Linked DNA regions of Homo sapiens. The protein of the gene in region 1 purifies or fractionates together with the protein of each later gene. This does not show direct contact. Each region holds a gene or a part of one and is shown on either strand. Other genes may lie near its edges.

Region 1 (7,684 bases):
AGAGGACAAACAGAGGGCCCCTACCCTGGAAGCTTCCACTTGCAGGTGGGGGAATCAACTCCCCTCCACAGGAAAACACAGTTGCATGATTTAACCCTCCAAGATGTTATTCTGAGAGATACAGAAAAGTAAGTTTGTTTTGCGGTAAGAAATGCCATCTTAAGCCACAGAAGGAAAGTCATCAAAAAAACAGGCTGATAAATATGATTCTATTACAAATTTCAAAGTCCTGTGTGAGAAAAGGCATCATAAATTTAAAAGATGAACAATGGTGTGAGATTGCAACCTACATAACAAATCAAGGACTGACAAATCATCGAAACCACAAAGAAACAACAGAACCATGGGCCTAAGATATGGATGCCAATTCACAAAAGAGAAAAAAAAACGGTCAGTGAGTTTTGACCATTTTTATAACCAGTGATTTTGACCACGGCAATAAGGGAAATGCCAACTAAAATGATAAGATGGCTGGGCGCGGTGGCGCACACCTGTAATCCCGGCACTTTGGGAGGCCGAGGAGGGTGGATGACCTGAGTTCAGGAGTTCGCGATCAGCCTAACATGGTGAAACCCTGTCTCTACTAAATGCAAAAAAAATTAGCCGGGCATGGTGGCACATGCCTGTAATCCCAGCTACTTGGGAGGCTGAGACAGGAGAATCACTTGTACCTGGGAGGCGGAGGTTGCAGTCGGCTGAGATTGTGCCACTGCACTCCAGCCTAGGCAACAAGAGCAAAACTCCGTCTCAAAAAAAAAAAAAAAAAAAACTGGATTAACACAGAGTGGTGAGAATGTGGAGAAGCAGGTATTCTCATACACTGTCAGTGGAAAGTAATTTGACAGTATGAACTGAATATTAAAATGCACGTGTATTCTACTGCTCTTACGATACCATTTCTCAGTGGAATGGAGTCTACAGAAATACACACACATACAAAGAGGTGAATATAAGATTTTCAGTAAAGCACCACCAACAAAGAAAAGCTGGAAAAGGTCCAATGTCCACAATGGATCTATGGTTAACTAAGCCATTTTATGCAGTCTAATGAATATACCATGCAGCAGTTACACAGAGTCAAGTCACTTCTATTAAGTACTGACTTGGAAAAATACATTGATTTTAAAGTGTTGTACAACAGTAGGTAGTGTCATGCCATTTATGTTTTTAAAAGTCATTTTTTAGTCACATGAGCACACAGGAAGGCCATTTTGCAAGCTGGATGGCATAAAAATGTCACTCCTCTCTGTTCTCCTCCCAGCTAACCAGGACAACTATTCCTACTTCCTCTTCACTCCCGGCCCGATCTGCCCCCAAACAGGTATGGTACCACCTCCACTCTCACTGCAGACATGTAGGAGAAAACTTTATTATTCTGCACTTAATAATATTCATAGAGCATTCATTTCCTTCTCTCCCTTGTCCCCCAACTGTCCTACAGAAGGAAGCGTACCTATCTGGCACACTATCTCAGAGAACAATAGAGTTACAACAGAAGAGTGTTCAGAGGACAGTAACACATTGCTGACTATAAATCACAGGAACAAGAGAATGCCTGTTCATCTACCTGGATGCGTGCTCTACAAACCACAGGAAATTCAACGGTAATGCTGGGGAATAAACACTGTTCCGGCTGCTTATTTTACCGAACAGGACACGGACCCGGGCGCCACCCTTCTAAAACTAGATGCGTATTCCTTATACGGAGGTTCCATCAAATACCACGTTGAGCAACAGTTTGCTCTTCGTGGCAAACCCCATCTTAGAGGAATCAACTATTTTCTTTCATTTACCCAGCTATGTAAACAAAACCTGCAAGTGCGGTAATAAAAGAAAAAAACACCTCAAATCTAGAAATATGTAATGTAAATAACTCCTCTTAAGTTTCTGCCAGGATTCGTTTGCTGTAAAATCCTGGAAGCAACGGGCCTAGAACTTGAGCAATCAATGGGACCGGGCTGACATCGGCTGTTGTCTTGAAACTCAACAGAGCCAGAGTTCTGTGTGAATATCCACCAGCTGCTACCAGCATAAGGCCTGACTAACCAGAGCAACGCAGGTGAACCTCCACAAAGGAACAACCCAGGACAGCAGCAGGCACCGGGGACTCGGATGCAGAACTGGTCAGCTCCCGGCGCCACGCTCTCACGGCCCAAGATTCCCTACCCTCTGCGGACTCATCGCGGCACCGCAAGGGCTATTATTTTCCTAAAACTCGGAGGAAGTGTTTGTAGTGTTGCCTAGGCAGACAAGTTTGTAGAAGCTCTTTAAAGGGAAACAATAACAACAACAAATTCTGCAATATGTTTTCCCGCTTCCAACCTCTCAACCCCCACCCCCGCCTACTTTTAAAAGAACCAACGAAATGGCTCAAGGGAGGTCAGGACAAACGGATTTGGCTTGCAATGACACCATTTTTATCAGAACCCAGCCTTCGGGGAACGTAGGGGAGGGAGGTGGAGGAGACAAGCCCCTGCAGCATGAACTCTGGGTCCCAGCGGTCCCCAAGATATGGGGGGTGGGGGAGGGCAGCCGCTTCCTTGACTCTCAGGACCGCAAAGCTTCCCCATCCCCCGACGCCTGGGAGTCACCAACCCGGGCCTGTCTGCGTGTCCCCCCTCCCGGGGTCCCAGGCTCGAACAGGCGCCCCGCGAGACAGCCATCAGGAGAGGGCGGGCACCAGGAGCGTCCCTGGCTCCCTAAGGCCCTGTTGGGAGAGACGGGTCGGGCCTCAGAGGAGTCCAGTCTAGGGGTCCCGCTGGGGGTATTGGGGGCGAGAGGGCGCCTAGCGGGCTGGCCATCAAGGAAGGAGGGCTGAGGGCGGGGGCCGCGGGGATGCAGACCGTCCAGCGCCAGCATGGAGGGGAAGTCCTTGCAGTTGGAGACGCCCGTGGAGTCGGTAACGCACGCCTTCCACAGGTTGGCCCAATAGGTGGCGGTTGTGATGACCGTGCCGTCGATGGTAGACACCTTCCAGTAGTCGGTGGGCAGCGTGGAGGACACCAGTACCCAGCCTGAGATGGAGACCATGAAGGCGATGATCTCCGAAGCCGTGCTAGCCATGCCGCCGGCTGCAGCCGCGCTCGCTCTCCGGCTCCCACTCTGCGCCGCGACCCCCGCACTCCCAACCCCGGGGCTCCGCCTCCCGCCTCCGCCTCCGCCCACCGTCCCCGCCCACCACCCCGCCCAGCGGACCCGGCGCCAGGGGGCGCACGCGACCCCTCACACCCATGCCCTGTCCCTTGAGGGGCCTCAGAGGGCTCGCGGTCGCCCCCCGGGTTCTCCATCTGCAGCTGGCCCGCGCCCGCGTGCGGGAGGAAGGCCGGCCTGCGCTCCCCTGAGCCAAAGGGCCGCGGAGAAGGGCTCGCTTGTTGGAGCGGCTCAGGTTCAGACTGGCAACCGGGTGTGGACAACCTGCTGCGCCCCCACCTCACCACCCCCACCCAGCCCTACCCAAGGCAAATAGCTTGGCTTCCTGACTACCTTGTAGAAGCAGAGCAGGAAAAGCCTTTTGCATGCCCTGAAAGGACACGGTTTGGTAACTCAGCCCTCGGTTTGCTGAACTCTAAAGGTTTGCGTGCCACGCTTGTTTGGGTGACTCTGTTTGACTTGTCAAGGAGGGATCATTGCAGATTCTGGGCTGGAAACCGGCCTTGCCCTCAAAACTCTGCAGTTCTTTTTGGCCTGGTGCTATGCGGAAAGTCATGGCAAAACGGTGCGTGGCACAGGCCTAAAGTCAAGATAGCAGCAGATGGGGCATCCTGACGATCTTGATCTTGCTGGTGTACTCATACTAATGCACTACGCAGAGGGCATTTGTTCAACACATTTTCCCTGTAGGTCCCTTCCAGCTTCCAGGTCTAGAGGCTATTCTATGAAAGGATGCTGTTATCCCAGTCAAAACTGCTATCTTGTCTTTTATTTTTTTTTAAACCACCTCCATCTCTCACGCCTAATTGAAATATAAACTCATTCATTCCTTCATCCCTTCATTGCTGTCTCAAGGTAAACATAAAGATCAAGGTGTACTTCTGGCTCCTGAGGCCACAAATCTGGGCATAAATGAGAGAACAAGGACACGGGTTATTATTTGTCCACTTAAAGGTTCTTGCAGTTTTGTTATGAGCTTCCAGGTTTCACTTGTTGCCAAAAGTAAGGAAAGGTCTAAAACCTATCAATCAGTCTGCTGTGATAAATCTCGTGCTAACCCTCTGTGTCACTATCTTTAGGCAGAAACACTCTGGTTCAATGTGAAGAATTTCTTAATTTCCCTTTGTCACTTTTTTTTTTTAACCAAATGGGTGCCCAGTGAAATTAGAGGCGACAAGGTGACTGGAGAAGAGAGGAAGCTGGACATAGAATCATCAAAACTTAGATTGGAAGAATCACTGTAGACCAGCAGGACACGCTCCACACTCAAAACAATGTTCCTGTCTATTTCTAGAGATAATGTTTAGCCCATGCTCCACCCTTCAGGACCAGCAGTTCAGTGCATGGCAACGTATCTATTCTGTTTTTCTTCATGTTGTTTTGACAGCCCTTTAAAAAAGCTTTTCTTCCTATTGAGCCCCAAATCTGTCTCTCTTCAATGTCTACCCGAATGTTGTAATCTGTGCTCTGAGAACACGAAGTAAGTCCTACTCTTGTTGCAGCCGTGCAGCGGCTGGCAGGTAGTGGGCTTCTCTGTGCTTAATGGTCCCATGGCTTTCGTGAATGGGTACAAGGGTGACAATGCAGACATGGTTACCCTACTGTTCTGCTCTGAACCCCAGCTTGTCCTGATGTATCATGTTAGGTTCACTGGTAAACTAAACTTAAAAACTGAGTTTAAGAAGTATCTCCCTGGCTGGGCGCAGTGGCTCACACCTGTAATCCCAGCACTTTGGGAGGCCGAGGCGGGCGGATCATGAAGTCAGGAGATCGAGACTATCCTGGCTAACACGGTGAAATCCCGTCTCTACTAAAAATACAAAAAAAAAAAAAAAAAAAAAAAAAAGTATCTTCCTAACCTCTTCCTTCTCATTCTCCTTGCTATGCAAATCAGTCACCTTTGAGCAATGACTACAAAGCATCCTCTATTCTTTTGTATGGCTTGCCTTTTTAAAGTGTTTTATCATCTGTTTTTTTGCCCTCCAGCATATTTCCACTATTATTTCTATGCCATATTCCTTCCTGAATAATCTGCCTATTTCTGATCCAATTACTATTTGAAAAACACAAAACCCACTAACCATAACATTTCTTACTGATTTTTCTAAAATTACAAATTACACAAATTTAATACTTTATTTCCTGGCCTTGTTCGATAGTCCCTTTGTTTACCGTGGCTCGCCTATGGTAGATACTCACTAAATTGATTATTTCTTTGTTTTTACTAGACAAAACCCTGACTTACTTTTGCCACAAAACAAGTGTAGTGCTGTGACCTTTAAGACTCAAGCACTTCCTAATTTATCACCTAGTTGCTATGAAGTCCACTGTTTGGATCCAAAGGCACATTGTTTGTTTTAAAGAAAGAACTTTGAAGAATGGTTTGGTGTTTTAAACCAGTCTGCAAAGTTTATTTAACACATAATGTAGCTCTACCCATTATACTTCAAAAATCCATAAGCCCAGATTACCGTTGCAACATAGCATCCGGAAGAAACAAATTCTGAATTCCTGCTTGGAACACTCTTCTCTCTGCCGCATCGCCACACCAGTGAAGCCAGAATCTCTGGGGGTGGCCTTGGTAGCAGTATTTCCAAAACTTCTAATGTGGACTCAGGCTGAGAACCACAGCTCTGACCAGTTGAGCTCTGTGTATGTGTGTATAAACAGTTAATTTAGCATAACGGATGGTGGTATGCATCACAGGAAGAAAGAATATTAAACTCATTGTTGAATACTTTGAAAAAAGAAATATTCTATTACTGTAGAGATTGCAACACACAATTTCAACTTAAAAGGGATGGGAAACACCACAAACAATCCATAAATTAAAACTTAAATGGCAGCATTATTAGTTCCTTTGGCAGCTAAAACAGACTAGGGTCGTCATGCCTGTGGACTTGGTTAATTTTCCTTTCTCCTTTCTATGAGGTTGGACAACCCTAAACTCTTTTCTTTATCTTCCCTAGGATGTACTACATAGTTACTGTGGAAAGCTGTATGTTGGAGGCCATGAGTTCCTGACCAAAGAATGAAAAATGTTAACTTTCTTTAATACCTAGATAATATTATGTAATGAATCAAACATTTTTATTTTAGAATGTCTTATATCTTATGCTTCTCAAGCTAGTTTTGTCAGGAGAATTCTAAAGATATTATGGAGTAGCATATAATCTAAAAAAAGAATGTCCAGAAAATAAAAATGGACCAAATAGAGATTTTTGAAAAGAAGTAATGGATAAATGTCTTGTTTTGCTTTAAGATTATACAGTTCCCAAATAACCTTTGCAGTTAATCTGCAAGCCGATTTACAGAGTACTTTCGACTGATAAATGCTTCCTTATTTTCTTTAGGATTCAGTTCACTGAAATTTCATAAGAGACTATTCTTAATTTAAATATAAAAGTGAATACATCAAAAAAGGTTGCCTCCTCTAAATTATTCAAAGTAACATCTTAGTTAACAATAGTTTAGTCTTTACAAAAAGCTATAGATCTTTTCCAATATGAAAACTACTAACTGATCTATAAATTTGACCCGAAGACATACAATGCCCTCAAACATATTCTGAGCCTTTCTACTTTTGAGGTCTAAGTCACTGGAATTAGCATTGAAAATTATTTCTTTGGCTTATTATGGTTATTAAAGAGAAATAGAGGATCCCCCCCACCCTGGGGTTGTTCAATAGGAGTGAAAACCAGTTTAGCCAACTAAACAGGAGATTTGCAGAAATTCCTTACTTGAGATTCAGTACACCTACCAAGCAACGCAGGTGTGCCTTTCAATAGCTCAAGGATTTTCTAAGCATCAGATTTGGTTTCAGTATACATTAGCTCCTTCCTAGATTCCAGTGAGGTGGCGTGCTGCTAATCAGGTGGGAAGAAACTGAATTCCTGATGATACGGTATTAACTAAAAAAAACAACTGCCCAGGAGCCAAGTATTGTTACATCACATTAAAGAAGACATTAATGCCGGTACCAAGATATTAAAAGAGCATATCTGTGTTCTTTTTCCTTCCATTTTCCCTAACATTTCATTTATCTTAATGCTTATGCAAATCCAATGATATTTGTAATCTACTTAGCATGAAAGCTACAGAGTGATAGGAATAGTTACAGAATGAACAGTTATTCTCACCATTGCATCACCATTCATATATAAATATATATCTATAATTTTTTTTGCAAATTATAACTATAAAAACAGTTGCCTTATTCTGTCATTTGGCAACCTGTGAAGTTGTACTCCATCAGAATATTTCTATGGGCCTATTACAAGTCAGTGCCATATACCTTGTGGATTTGTTTTTCATGCATTCATTTGAAACACACTCATTCCCAATTCTAAATTATCTTAGTAGACTCCTCTTGAGCCCCTGAAGGGGAGGGGTAAGGTTTGGGCCCCAGCAGGAATACCCTTCGAGCCTGGAATTACTCTCACTCTGTGATGCTAGAACATTCCAGGGCTTGTAGACAGGTTGGGTACATTTTGTTTGTCCATAAGCACTTGATGAATATCAATATAACCTCCCA
Region 2 (7,147 bases), on another chromosome or scaffold:
GCTGGTACTTGAACATTTGTTGATTAGTGAACCCTTTCTTCAGAAAAAGTACTCTCACCCACATGTATAGATGTTAGATTTACCTAAAGCATGGTATGCCTGTGGCACAAACAACTTCAGATTATTTTTCCAGCAACCTAAATCAAGGGATACTGCATTAGCCATGCACTGCTTATTTAATGAGGTGGAAATGGGTGTGTCCACTCTGCACAATACCTAACCCCTGGGAGCTAGCATACAGGCTGACAGTGTCAGAGGCGTTCGAACCAGAGCAACTCCATCTTGAGTGAGGGCTGGGAAAATGAGGCTGGGACCTGCTGGGCTGCATTCCCAGAAAATTAGGCATTCCTAGACTCCAGATATTTATGGTTAAGGGAATAGATTGATAATGTTTACTACACAGACTCAGACTTGGGAGTCTCCAGGTAGCCCGATATTTTGAGAACAAATGCATTCCTAATTTTGCTTTAAAGATAATATGGATTCTTGCAAAATATAGTAATTAAGAAAATTAGGCCAGGTGCAGTGGCTCACACCTGTAATCCTAGCACTTTGGGAGGCCGGTTGGATCACCTGACATTGGGAGTTAGAGACCAGCCTTAGCAACATGGAGAAACCCCGTCTCTAATAAAAATACAAAATTAGCCGGGCATGGTGCCGCACACCTGTAATCCCAGCTACTTGGGAGGCTGAGGCAGGAGAATTGCTTGAACCCGGGAGGCGGAGGTTGCAGTGAGCCGAGATTGTGCCATTGCATTCCAGCCTGAGCAACAAGAGTGAAACTCTGTCTCAAAAAAAAAAAAAAAAAAAAAAGGAAAAGAAAATTAATCCTTTATCCTTTATCACAAACCCTTGTAGCAGAGCACATCTCCCCATGATCTTTTTAAAATCCTATATATACGAGCATGGTACCTAGGATGGATGTGTTCCTCCTCTTACTTTTGGGAACACCCTACTCTGTCAGTGGAGCAGCTGTGCTTTCACCACTTTACTTTCTTAATAAAAAGAAAGTGCTTTTGCTTTGCACTGCGGACTCGCCCTGACTTCTTTCTTGCTTGAGATCCAAGAACCCTCTCTTGGGGTCTGGATCTCTTTCCTGTAACAGCAGTCCCAAGATCCTAATAGTTTATGTGTAGTTCACAGAATGCATGTCACCTAAGTGAGTGGCTGCACTGTCCCAAGATGAGATGTCCCTTCAATGTAGATACGGCATATGGATGTCCGCCCACCATCTCCACTGAATGTTATCATCATGGCTGGTGCTACTCACCTGTAAAGTCAAACCACTTAACCAGATATGGCTTCCTTGATCCTTTGCAGAACTAGTCAAGTCATATGTAAACAGCAGATTTGAGAGAGAATTTAAAAGAAACTCATTGTGTTTTCTCTTAAAGTTTTGCATACTAAGTTTGCTTTGGATTACATACTTCATTTGCAAACCCATTTATTCACACTAACAAAGGCAGGGGCAACAGAAGAAAGTCTCTCTGAGTCCCTCTGCCAACAGCAAATTGTTGATCTTGCCTTCAGATCAACATCTCAAGAGGGGACTTTCCTCGGAAGCCCTCAAAGACCAACACAAAGAAAACAAAGGAAAAGGGAATTTGCGACTGTGAATCAGAGTCTCCACCAAAATCCTCAGTCATCCACACTGACAAACAGCTCCAGTAAACTGCTGGCCACCCTTCACTAGACATCACTTCCCAAAGCGAGGCCCACTCCTTTCAGCCCTGATGCCACTGCTGCTGGCTCACTGTTACACAGAGCTGGTGGAGGGGCAGCCTGGCTCGCCCTCAGCCGGGATGCTCAAGTCCTCCCACTGGGTCGGGGAGCTAACTCGTAAACAATCGCATCCCTGTAGAGAATGAAAGGAAAAGTGCCAGTCACCAGTGCAGAAAGGAGGGAGGCAAGCGGGGGTGGTGGGGTGGTGGGTGGATGTAACATAGCTAGAGAATAATGGAGTGTTTGAATTCTGCTGAGGCAGAGTGAGCCCTTGGGCCTCCCTTGGGTCTCTGAAAAGTGCGTACTTGATTAAATGCCTGAAATTTCCATCTCAGTATCTGGAGGGCTGCATTTCTGAAGTGCTCCTCTGCAGCAGCCTTGCATACCTTTGGCATGTAATTGTGATGTGGGTGTGGATAGTGTATGTGCCAGAGACTCTGTCCATTCTGACTCCTTCTTTCCTAGTGCCCATCGGAGGGGTACTGAAACGAGGATGTGATATTCCAAGATCAGAAAGGAAGGAAAGAAGTAATCCGAGTGACCATGGGGCCATGGGAATACCACCCTACCAAAACCCTGAGCTGACACACCCAGATAATCCTAAACTTCAGCCTGACTTCTATATCAAAAGGTTAATAAAATCTAAGCTGCCCACCATGTGGACAGCTTTTCCAAGGCAGCTGAATATCCAGGCTTCCCAAGAGAGAGCTAGTGTGACACAGCACGATAATGCTAGCCACACTCACCACAGCCAGACTCACCGCAGCTTTCTGCTTCTGCCGAACCTCAAGGGCTGCATCCAGCACTTTAGTAAATGAGAAATGCCTGCCCCCTCCAGCCCTGATTCAGGGCCAGTGTCAGGCGGGCACTGGAGGAATGGAGATAATGTGGCGGCATGGTGCATTCATATTTTTGCAGTCTCTAAACTAGAAGTACTATTTTTACATGTCTGTGACATCAGCATGCCCTTCCCCCAGAGCAGTCTGCACCATGGTTTAAACCCAGCCAAAGGTGAGCTTCTTGAGATTCACTTGCAGGAGTCCTGGTTCCAGTGCTATCTGCTTGAAACATTTTCTTTCTTCTCCAAGTAGCATTACATTTGCACTTGGACACACACACAAAACACACACACACACACACACACACACACACAACCTCAGCTATAACCTGCTCTGTTTCCCAGATCAGATGCCCTGATTCTTACCTAAAGAGCTTGTAGGCCGAGGGCTGTACCTCTCTCCACACTCGCTCAGTGCTGTCCCAGGGGAAGCAGAATCCACTTGGTGTCTTCTTCTCAGAGTAGCCCGGCTCTCTGAACCTCCAGGCTACTGCAGCTCTGAGTGGGGAGAGGGACGGGCCGTGGCATGCACATCAGGTTGCTGGCCTGCCTCCAGATACCATGCCACAGAGCTGGCTACCCGTCCCTAGGGCTCTGTGGGAAATCGAGGTGGGGGGGGTGTAGGCTGGGGGAGCCAAGAATGTCAGCCTCTAGGTCTATCTCCGGTCCTTGTTTATCAGTAGAGGGGACCTGCCTTTAGACAACCGCCCACTCCCACACCACCCGCAGGGATGCACACAGCTCTAAGCAACCCCTACTCTGGACAGCCAGCAGCAGGCCCAGGAACACAGAGCCATTGGCCAGCCAGGAGGGAGGTAGAGACAGAAGACGGTGGCAGCAGCTACCCTGGGTGTTATTTTAACGTGGTTTGTCTTGGGGCAAATGTGTGAGCCGAATGGACTTCTGGCCCGTCTGAGCAGAATCCTGTTTATTTTGAGGCCTGAGTTGCCAGGGAAACAGCAGGTCGTGGCTCGGAGACTCTCCTCTGGAGTCAGAAGGCTGCTGGATGAAAGGGAGGCCTTTTCTGTTCTGTCATCTGGCATCCCTGCATGGGGTGTAGGTGTCTGTGTGTGGCAACGTGTATGTGTGCGTGTGTGTGTCTGTCTGTGCCATCCCCAGAGCCAAGCCCTACAAATGGCATTTTACGAAGTCAATCGAGGCAAAAGCCATCCAGGTTGGGACTGGCGAGGGGCTGCAGAGGTGGCAGCTCTGTCCTCCCTCTCCACTGTTCAAGCCTGTCCCCGTTGGATGAGGTGAATCCTCAGGTGAGCTCAACTTCAGGGGTGGGAAATTCTTCAATGGGCCATGGACATCCTCTTTAGACTTCTGGCCAGGACAGGGTAAGGAAGGGAGGGAGCTGTCTGGACAAATAACTCTTTGGCTAGAAGGTGGGGAATAAGGTGGACTGAAAGGATATGGATCAAGAGCTGTCTTTGAAGAAACCAAATGAAAACATGATTAATAGTTTCCAATAATTGAAGAGTCGCTCCTGCTTATGCAGGCGTTTGAGCCCAGAAGGCATGAGTGTGTGTGTGTGTGTGTGTGCACGCATGCACTCCCATGTATGTACACAAGCCTGCTCACCTGATGATTCAGGTAGAGAGGTACAGATCGACCTGTCAGAACTAGAAATATGCTCTCCAGTCTCTACCTCCTCTGGGTAGTTGCTTAGGTGTAGAGAGGATGGAGTTGCAGTTTGTTCCCCACACTCCCCACAGAGCATGGGGGTGTGGGGAAGCCATCCATGTGCCTTCTGAAGGGATGAGCCTTGGAGAAGGAGCTCGTGTCCTGTACTAAAGAGCTAGAGGCTCAATCATCACAGAACTCCAATCACGGATAAGCAGCAGCTCCCAAAAGGGACTTGAATATACAGAAAATGTTGATTTCTTGAGACCCTATTAATTGGAACCCTCATGAACTACCACTTCTACACCTGCAAAGGATACTGATAATTTGCTTTAAAACATAATAATCTTCCTGAGTATCTGCAAGTTTCCAAAGGGCCTTCTGAATCCTTAAAGAAAATATTTTGGACAATGGTTTTCCAAGTATTAAAGAATCATTATGCTAGATGTAGTATGCATGTTAACCCTTTTTAACTACGTGAAATGATAGACTTGAAAGTTAGAAAATACCCTAAAAATCCTAAGGACAGAGATGCAGACTCAGAGACTCACTCAGGTGGTACCCTTAGTTAAAGTCCTCATTGTGACTAAAACCAGGTCTCCCTGCTTTAGGTTAACCCCGTGTTAACCTGCCTGCACTGTGTGGTTGGCCATTGTTGGGCAATTCAGCCCAAGGGCTCCAGATTCCCCCCCTCCTAGTGGAAATTAATGAGACTTTCCTACTCATATCTTCCCTGCAAACTCACAGGATTATCATGACAATCAAATGTGTCCAAGTGTGTTCGAGCACCTTGAACGCAGGGAATGCAAATGCAAGTCATTATTTTATTTTATTTCTCCATTATGTCCAGTTGTGAAACCCTGTTTAAACACACACACTCACACACACATACACACACAGCTTTTAGGCAAATATAATCCCTAGCTACTGACATATGCTAATTTATCTACTGCATATTGGGTGTTTGGCAATATTACTGTCCAAATACTGGGAAATAATCCTCAGTTAAGGTATTTACTGTAATATAATTCCCGCCAATGTGGAAATTTTTTAAAATTTCATTATAATATCCTTCAATTTCTACATTTATTTGAACTTCTGTTACTATCTAGATTTACCTTTTAAATAACATATATTGAGATTTTTCCCAGTCTGGAGACATGATCATGTGAATGCTTTTCAGCCCCACTGTTATTTAGAGTAGGAAGGGACTTTGCAATGACCTAGTCGAAAAGTCTGGTCTCAGAATAGCCCTCCAGCTCTGTGCCTGGAAATAGTCAGTGGAAATAATAGCCGTCGAAGCTGCTTATTAAGCATCCACAATATGCTAGATCGTATGCAGAACATGTAACAGAAATCATGTCTTCCTCCAAAGCTCTTACACCACTTTAAAAGCCATTTCTGCCCTGATAAAACCTTGTAGGAGAGGCTGCTAGTACTGCAGAGGGGTCCCTGGAGAAAGGAAGAAAATTACAGGTTTGGAGGACCAAAAAAAATTCTAGTAGGTTTATCCACAGAGACGTGGGCTTGCCCCGGAGTCATCCACATCTAAAATGTTGTGGCTCTTGCCAGAGGTGAGATTTTTCCTTTCGCATCCTAACAGATGGACTCAATGCAGAGCACTTAGGCAGCTGCTATTACAGAAAGTGGCTCTACACCTCTCCTAAGAGCTTTAGAAGGGCAACAAAGGTAGAATGTGGTGGTTCTGTGGTTTTACTTATTTTGTGCTCAGTGTCTCTGAAAATCAGACATATAACTATCACATTTTAACTGTACCAGCATGAAAGAAGCAGAGCATTATTGAATCAACAGGGTTCAAAATGCCCCCAATATATACATTTTTTTTCTCTCCAGGCAGAACATAAGCCCTGGTGTCTTGTCCTTGATTCTTGAGAATGACATTCAATATTTGCCTTAAAAATTCCCCTTCATTCATCCTGTTTACACAAATGATACAGTTATGTGAAACACACACCAGACACATTGCATTTTCTTTCTAATCTCATTTGACCGTGTTCAGGCACAACAAATCTTAATCAGCTGACGGGAGAAATTGGATGCTGCATGCCACTCTCTCCCTCCAGCAACACATTTCCCTCTGTTTATGCCCAATGAGGCAGTTAGATGAAGGGTGTCCTGGTCTCATGGTGAAGCAAGCGCCACGATGACAGAGGGCAATGGGAAATGCAGCAGACATTCATGGGAAATTGTATTCGTTGCTCAAGGAGACCAGCCAGCCACAAACATCACCAGAACTGCAGGACAGAAGCTGAGTCCAATGACCCTCAAGAAGGAAGGTGCCTCACCCTGATCCCACTGAAATCCAATCATATGCGCTTGCCCGCCGCTGGTTAGCCTGATTCTTCAGCAACTTCAGGGGAGGATGCTTGGGAAGGGTCCTACCCATGAGAGCTGGGTTTCCTCTCCTCTAATATTGATTGTCTGTCGCCTATTCTACTGTGTTTTCCTCGATCCTAGTTTTTTTTTTTTTTTTTTTTCTGAGACAAGAGTCTCGCTCTGTCGCCCAGGCTGGAGTGGAGTGGCGCGATCTCGGCTCATGGAAGCTCCGCCTCCCGAGTTCACGCCATTCTCCTGCCTCAGCCTCCGGAGTAGCTGGGACTACAGGCGCCCGCTACCACGCCTGGCCAGTTTTTTGTATTTTGTTCAGTAGAGACAGGGTTTCACCGTGTTAGCCAGAATGGTCTCGATCTCCTGATCTCGTGATCTGCCCACCTCGGCCTCCCAAAGTGCTGGGATTACAGGCGTGAGCCACCGCGCCCGGCCCCTCAATCCTAGTTTTTTAATTTTAAAATATTTTACCTTGGCCGGGCACGGTGGCTCACGCCTGTAATCCCAGCACTTTGGGAGGCTGAGGCGGGCGGATCAAGAGGTCAGGAGATCGAGACCATCCTGGCTAACACGGTGAAACCCCGTCTCTACTAAAAATACAAAAAATTAGCC
Region 3 (7,108 bases), on another chromosome or scaffold:
TTGCTCGAATGGTCCGGTAGGCAGAGGTTGCAGTGAGCTCAGATGGCGCCACTGCACTCCAGCCTGGGTGACAGAGCGAGACTCTGTCTCAAAAAAAAAAAAGAAAATTTGGAGAAAAGAGAACACTACAAAGAAAGGTAAATCCTGTCTCTGTTTCTGAAACAAAGTAAAATGACTGTTACCATGGTGTCTCCTTTCCAGGTTTTTTTCTAAGTATTTTTATTTAGTTTATAATAGTAAAAATTTTTTTATTTTAAAGGGATGTCAGTTTGATATTTGGTCTGTTAATTAGAACAAAACTCTGATTAACTACAGCTGAACTAATGAGACCCAAATACCTGCAGTATTTGGAGAAAGACACAGATACCTTCAACTAAGCAAGGATTCCTTTTTTGTTTTTTGAGACAGAGTCTCACTCTGTCGCCCAGGCTGGAGTGCAGTGGTGCCATCTCAGCTCAGCACAACCTCTGCCTCCTGGGTTCAAGTGATTCTAATGCCTCAGCCTCCTGAGTAGCTGGGATTACAGGTGTGTGCTACCACACCTGGCTGATTTTTGTATTTTTAGTAGAAATGGGGTTTCACCATGTTGACCAGGCTGGTCTCGAACTCTCAACCTCAGGTGATCTGCCCGCCTTAGCCCCCCAAAGTGCTAGAATTCCAGGTGCACAAGGATTCTTTTAATTTAAAAAAACCTGTCAGTGTTTGCGCTGGGATCAGTATTCCTTTATACCTGGTTCCTAAGTATTTATGTTACCAGTGCTTTCAGAGAAATGTCCCTCAGAAATGTTGGGCAGAGATAGCAGTGTCCTTTTAATGCAGCAGGTACTTTGATTTGATTGTGTTCTTCCTCACAAAGGCAGAGAAGTGGATGAATGTTTTTTTTTAAAAAAAGATATTTGGGCCGGGCCTGGTGGCTCATTCCTGTAATCCCAGCACTTAGGGAGGCCAAGGTGGGTGAATCACGAGGTCAGGAGTTTGAGACCAGTCTGTCCAAGGGAGTTTGAGACCAGTCTGGCCAACATGGTGAAACTCCATCTCTACTGAAAATACAAAAATTAGCCAGGCACGGTGGCACACACCTGTAGTCCCAGCTACTCGGGAGGTTGAGGCAGGAGAATTGCTTGAACCTGGGAGGCGGAGGTTGCAGTGAGCTGAGATCATGCCATTGCACTCCAGCCTGGGTGACAGAGCGAGACTCTGTCTCAAAAAAAAGAAAAAAAAGATTTTCAGCAGTAAGAGCCACCTTGGAAAGTTTCTGTGCTATTTACTTTCTCTAGCAACTCCCACTTCTAAGGTAGAATTTTAGATCCACTTACAGCTCTGTATCAGGATCCTCTGAAACATCTACCCCAAAGCTAGCCTAACCATTGAAACTCTTTGGACTTACACTGTAGAATCTTTGAGACATGTGAAAAAACTTTTCTAGAACCAAATGTGATTGGTCTAATATTTTAAAATTCTTTTTAGGCAAAGGGGCTGATTTGAGTAAGCCTCCATGTCGAAAAGCAAAGGAAATCCGGAAAGAAAGGAAAAGGTTAAAACTAATGCAGCAGAACCCAGCTGGAGAACTTGAGGGTTTCCAGGCTCAAGGTCACCCACCATCTTTGTTTCCACCAAAGGCTAAATCCAACCAGCCAAAATCACTCGAAGATTTAATTTTTGAGTCTTTACCAGAGAATGCATCACACAAGTTAGAGGTACTTTGGAGGACTTTTGTTGTTTGTTTTATTATGATTTTTTTTTGTTTGGGCATATCGTTTATTTTTATTTGAAGTTCTAATTAGTTGATGTTTGCTAGTTAAATAATGAGAATTTAAAAGAAATTAAAGAGAACTGGGAAGAAGTAACATTTGTATTTACTAAGTTAACTGCTGTTTGAGGGAAACTCCTTTTTTTTTAAAAGACTTTTTGAGAATACATAGTTGGCCACCAAACTTGTGAAAACAGTGTCAATTTTAGCATGCTACCTTGATTGAAATTTAATAGTTAAAATGAAAGAAATACTCTTTAAAATTGTGTTTTTAGCAGTTTTGGTTTAGATAGTGAAAGACAATAGATTACACAAGGCAAATCACTATTTCATCCATTATAATATTCTGATCTTGGTAAAGACAGCAAATGGTGTCATATACATAAGCCAGCAGTTAGGAATTATCTAAATAGGGCTAAATTGTACTGCTGAAATCCTCTCTCATTAGTGCCAAAACCACTTTGGGCATAATATGAATACTTTTAGAGCCAAATTCCTCCATTTTTCCAAATTTATTTTCGTTTCTAGATCAGATCAAGATTTCTCAGTATTAGTTTCTCATATATAAAATTCAAAAACAAGGGCTGGATGTGGTGGCTCACACCTGTAATCCTAGCACTTTGGTAGGCCGAGGCAGGTGGATCTCTTGAGGTCTGGTGTTTGAGATCAGCTTGGCCAACACAGTGAAACCCCGTCTCTACTAAAATATAAAAATTGGCCAGGCGTGGTGGCGTGCACCTGTAATCCCAACTCCTAGAGAGGCTGAGACACCAGAATTGCTTGAACCCAGGAGGTGGAGGTTGTAGCGAGCTGAGATCACACCACTGCACTCCAGCCTGCGTGACAGAGCAAAAGACTGTCTCAAAAAAATTCAAAAACATTAGCCATAATGATTTTTATCTTATTCTCATATGTGATTAGTAACTGGTCAGCCTTTGAATTTTGTAGCTTACTATCATCTAAAAATATCACTTATCACTGAAGTCCTGATAATAAAAATTAACTTTCATGCATTCTAAGCCTTAATTCAGTATATGTATTATCAGACGTAGAATTTAGCTTTTTTTTTTGAGACGGAGTTTCACTCTTGTTGCCTAGGCTGGAGTGCAATGGCGCGATCTCGGCTCACTGCAACCTCTGCCTCCTGGGTTCAAGCGATTCTCCTGTCTCAGCCTTCTGAGTAGCTGGGATTACAAGTGCCCACCACTACGCCCGGCTAATTTCTGATATTTTTAATAGAGACAGGGTTTCACCATGTCAGCCAGGCTGGTCACGAACTCCTGACCTCAGGTGATCACCCGCCTCGGCCTCCCAAAGTGCTGGGATTAGAGGTGTGAGCTACCTTGCCTGGCCAGATTTTAGCTTTTATAACTCCTTGGCTACTCTGATTTGGATACAGATTTTTTTGTCCTTCCAAAATTGTAAACAGAGTTGAATACACTACTTAAAATATTTTACAAGGTGTCTTTTATCTTTGATCATAAATAGTAATGTATTCAGGAGGCCAAGCACGCTTAACATAACAGTTCTCCAGTGGTTACTTGTACTTTTTGAATGTAATGATACTCAGGATGTATAGAGATCTTTTACCACTGGGTGTCGCTCTTTCTTCATAGAATTACGTCTCACGGCACACATGTCCAGTTTCCAGCTGTTTTCATTGCATTGCATTTGACTGTTTTACTGTTCTGTTTTGCTAATACATTTTAAGTGGCTAGTAAATAATGTTAAAGTAAATGTTAGCCATTACTGCGTGCAATTACTGTTTTAAACTTATCCTTATTTTACAAGGTTACTTGACCAAGATGGTGACATTGTAAGATTTGAACAAAGGAAATGTGACTTCAGAGTCATGGTTGTTAACTATGCTATGAAGTAGGAAAACTTTATGAGGTCTTTTTAACTCAAACAGTCAAGTTTTAAGTTGAGGGTTAGCAATGATGAATGAGTGGCCAAAAAATGTATTCATATTTTTAGTCTTTCTTAGAATTACTGGTAGTTGTGCACAACTAGAGGGTATTTATTTGTGTGTGTATGTGTCGTGTGTGTACGAGTGCTGGAAATACTCTGCCAGTTTACAGTAGAGGCAGGCTTACATAATTCAGTCATGAAAGCTGAGGCTTATAGTTTAGAGGGGATCGTCCTCTTCTTAATGAGTCTGTAAGTTACAAAAATAACTTTTTTCTTTATTTACTAACTGGTTGGTTTTTAATATTAAAATATTTAGGTGCTTTAATAATTGTTGAAACTTGGTTTCTTGGATGGGAGTTACTCTTAATGCATATTCCACAGAATGAATAAATGAATGAATTAGTAAACTTGTTTTTTTAACTGCTTCTGAAGGTGAGGGTGGTGAGATCATCTCCACCAAGTTCGCAGTTCAAAGCCACACTTCTGGAGTCTTACCAGGTCTATAAACGTTACCAGATGGTTATTCACAAGAACCCACCTGATACGCCAACCGAAAGCCAGGTCAGCAGGCCAAGTGTAATTTTCCTGTGCAAACAGAGCTTTCCCTTCCACTTAATATCATTTAATGAAATCTTGGTTTATTTGTGCTACATTTTATTTGTGTTCAATTTGCAGCATATCTGCAAAGACCTAAGACTGAATTAATGGACATTCTGAAAGTGCAAATTTTACCTAGTGCCATGTTAAGTACCAGCCATGTATAATTTCAGAGTCAAAGTAACATGTAAAATTATTTAAAGTCACTATTTTAGATGCATTTATCTAAAAGATAGTAATAGAGCTCTAAATTAAAATACCTGTGAGGAAAACTCAGGAAACTATATTTTTATGGTAGATACGTACTTTGCCTAACATGATTTTAATGCTTTATCTGTATTTGAAAGATGTATGTAGGAATAATTGATCCCAGTTAAATTATTCTTTATTAATGTGCTACCCTTGCACAATTGAGTGGGACTAAAAAAGGAAGATAGTAGAACATTTTAATAGAAGAACTCATATGCTAATAATTTTGTAAGTTAAATGACCCAAGAAAAATCTGTAAAGGAAAAAAGCTTAAAACACTTAGTATAAGTAGAGGTGGCAAAAGTAGCGATCATCACCATGATTAACAACAATATTGACTCTAGTTTATGCAGAAAACTACAATTAGTGGAGAGAGAGAAAAAAAAAAGAACAAATTGTTGGCTCTTATGAGGTTGAGATTTTCATAAGTTTTAGTACAGTTAGCACTTCGGTCTCTGCACCCGTCTGCCTCGTCTAAGGTTTCTTTTCATGACAAATTCGAGTTCGAGCTTTGGCGTGGATTTGTGGAGATCTTACTGTAGCCTCACCTTCAGAAGCATATCATCAGAGATGTTTCAATAGCATTTGCTTGTATTTTCCTTGCTCTGAAGGTGAGGTTAGTACCTGTCTCCTTTGAGGACCCAGAGTTCAAGTCGTCTTTCAGCCAGTCCTTTTCTTTGTATGTCAAGTATCAAGTGGCCATACACCAGGATCCACCCGATGAATGTGGGAAGACTGAGGTATTGTTAACTGTTGTTTTCTGTGTTGATAAGGTTGTCTGGGAAGAAGTATAATATATACCATTTTCTTGTCAGGTGGAGCTGATGACCCTTTCAGTGTGTATTACTGAACTTCTGTGAACACTCACATGACTCATACATGTGAGCATTTTAAATCCTTAGAAAAAAGGATTGCAAATTCAGGATGCGTTCTTAGTGTTTTCTCTAGGAACCTGAAAGTAGTGGTTTATAAGGTCAGTCATCCACTCTAGGTCAACAGTCATTTACTGAGTGCCCATCGTGTGCCAGACTGTGCACCACAGAACAAAAGGAGTCTCTGTCTTCAAGAAATTGATAATCAAATGGGAAAGACAGACCAATAAGCAAAAATACCTTAACAACAAGTGAATTAGAAAGAAATACCTACACCTAACCTACCGAACATCATAGCTTAGCCTCGCCTGCTTTACACATTCTCAGAACACTTATAATCTGCAGTTAAGCAGAATCATCTAACACAAAGCCTATTTTATAATAAAATGTTGAATATCTCATGTAATTTATTGAATACTGTACTGAAAGTGAAAAACGGAATCGTTTTCCATCATTGTAAAGTTGAAAAAGCATAAGTCCAACCATTATAAGTTGGGGACCTTCTGTTAGATATAATATGGTTTAACGGGCGTTTATTGAGGGTCTGTCTTTGTCAGTCTTGGGATATTGAAATGAATGAGATGGCATCGTTGTCACAGTAGAACCATGGTATGTTGGAAGAAAGAGGCCAACAGATGCAGAAGAATTAGAGTTTTGATTTTTTGACTGCTTTTGTTTTTTTAATGACACGATGTGTAAGCTAAAAAGAGAGGGTTAATACAACAGGAGTTAATGCTGCATGTTCCCTGAGAAAGGGCTCACTTCCCAGATCCCCCAGAGTCTTCTGGTTAAAGTGTCATTTGCAGACCTGCAGCATCAGCAGTACCTGGAACACAGACTCTCAGTCCTATTCATTCAACATCTACTTTTTTTTTTTTTTTTTTGAGACGGAGTCTTGCTCTGTTGCCAGGCTGGAGTGCAGTGGCGCAATCTCTGCTCACTGCAACCTCCACCTCCCGGGTTCAAGCGATTCTCCTGCCTCAGCCTCCTGAGTAGCTGGGACTACAGGCGCGTGCCACCACAGCCGTCTAATTTTTATATTTTTAGTAGAGATAGGGTTTCACCATGTTGGCTAGGTTGGTCTTGATCTCTTGATCTTGTGGTCTTCCTCCTTGGCCTCCCAGAGTGCTGGGATTACAGGCATGAGCCACCGGGTCCGGCCAGAATCTACATCTTAAACTGGGTTTCCAAAGGATTCAGATGCACATTTCAGTTTTGAGAGGCTATGTCCTAGGTTCCCTGTTGATCCATGCCACTGTGGGTGATAGCATTTGCAGATAGTAAGGATTCTGCTAGGCCTAGGAAGCTTCCTTTGATATTCTCAGGGGGTCTTTTTGCTTTCTGAACTTTCCTCCTTCCTAGTGCTCTGGAGATGATGCCTTTCTACCTCCCTGCTTAGCAGGTAGGAATAGTTGGACAAAATGTTTCTGTGGCCCGGTGTATTTATTCAAGACTTCCCCAGGAGCTTCTCCTAGTAGGCTTCAGGCCTCTGGGAAGTCCCTTTATGCAGACTTAGAGCAGCACTAAAGGCATTCATAGTCTGAATTGGGGTGGTAGACAGGTATGCAATTCCAGTGCCTTTAGAATTAGCCATTGGATTAGTAGGGACAGCCAGCTTAGTGTGAAACTGGAGGTTAGAGAGGTTTTTCTGAGGGAAGTGACATTTGAGCCAAGTCTGGAAAGATGAGTAGGTGTTTGCCAGGACAAAAAGGGAGAAAGGTGTTCTGGG

The links.
Region 2: the proteins of CLDN10 (region 1) and FGF1 purify together in Homo sapiens (affinity purification with mass spectrometry; 3 studies listed by BioGRID and IntAct, with this or other methods). This does not show direct contact.
Region 3: the proteins of CLDN10 (region 1) and ATE1 purify together in Homo sapiens (affinity purification with mass spectrometry; 3 studies listed by BioGRID and IntAct, with this or other methods). This does not show direct contact.

Annotation. Positions count from the first base shown.
Region 1 is NC_000013.11:95,548,133-95,555,816, reverse strand, and holds the start of CLDN10 (claudin-10), read right to left. Parts: upstream 3,098-7,684; 5' UTR 3,064-3,097; coding exon 2,844-3,063; exon of another isoform or gene 1-2,843. UniProt on the Homo sapiens protein: Forms paracellular channels: polymerizes in tight junction strands with cation- and anion-selective channels through the strands, conveying epithelial permeability in a process known as paracellular tight junction permeability.
Region 2 is NC_000005.10:142,683,031-142,690,177, forward strand, and holds the start of FGF1 (fibroblast growth factor 1 isoform 1 precursor), read right to left. Parts: upstream 3,061-7,147; 5' UTR 2,927-3,060; intron 2,674-2,926; exon of another isoform or gene 2,469-2,673; intron 785-2,468; exon of another isoform or gene 666-784; intron 1-665. UniProt on the Homo sapiens protein: Plays an important role in the regulation of cell survival, cell division, angiogenesis, cell differentiation and cell migration. Functions as a potent mitogen in vitro. Acts as a ligand for FGFR1 and integrins.
Region 3 is NC_000010.11:121,896,980-121,904,087, reverse strand, and holds part of ATE1 (arginyl-tRNA--protein transferase 1), read left to right. Parts: intron 1-1,467; coding exon 1,468-1,697; intron 1,698-4,093; coding exon 4,094-4,222; intron 4,223-5,118; coding exon of another isoform or gene 5,119-5,247; intron 5,248-7,108. UniProt on the Homo sapiens protein: Involved in the post-translational conjugation of arginine to the N-terminal aspartate or glutamate of a protein. This arginylation is required for degradation of the protein via the ubiquitin pathway. Does not arginylate cysteine residues.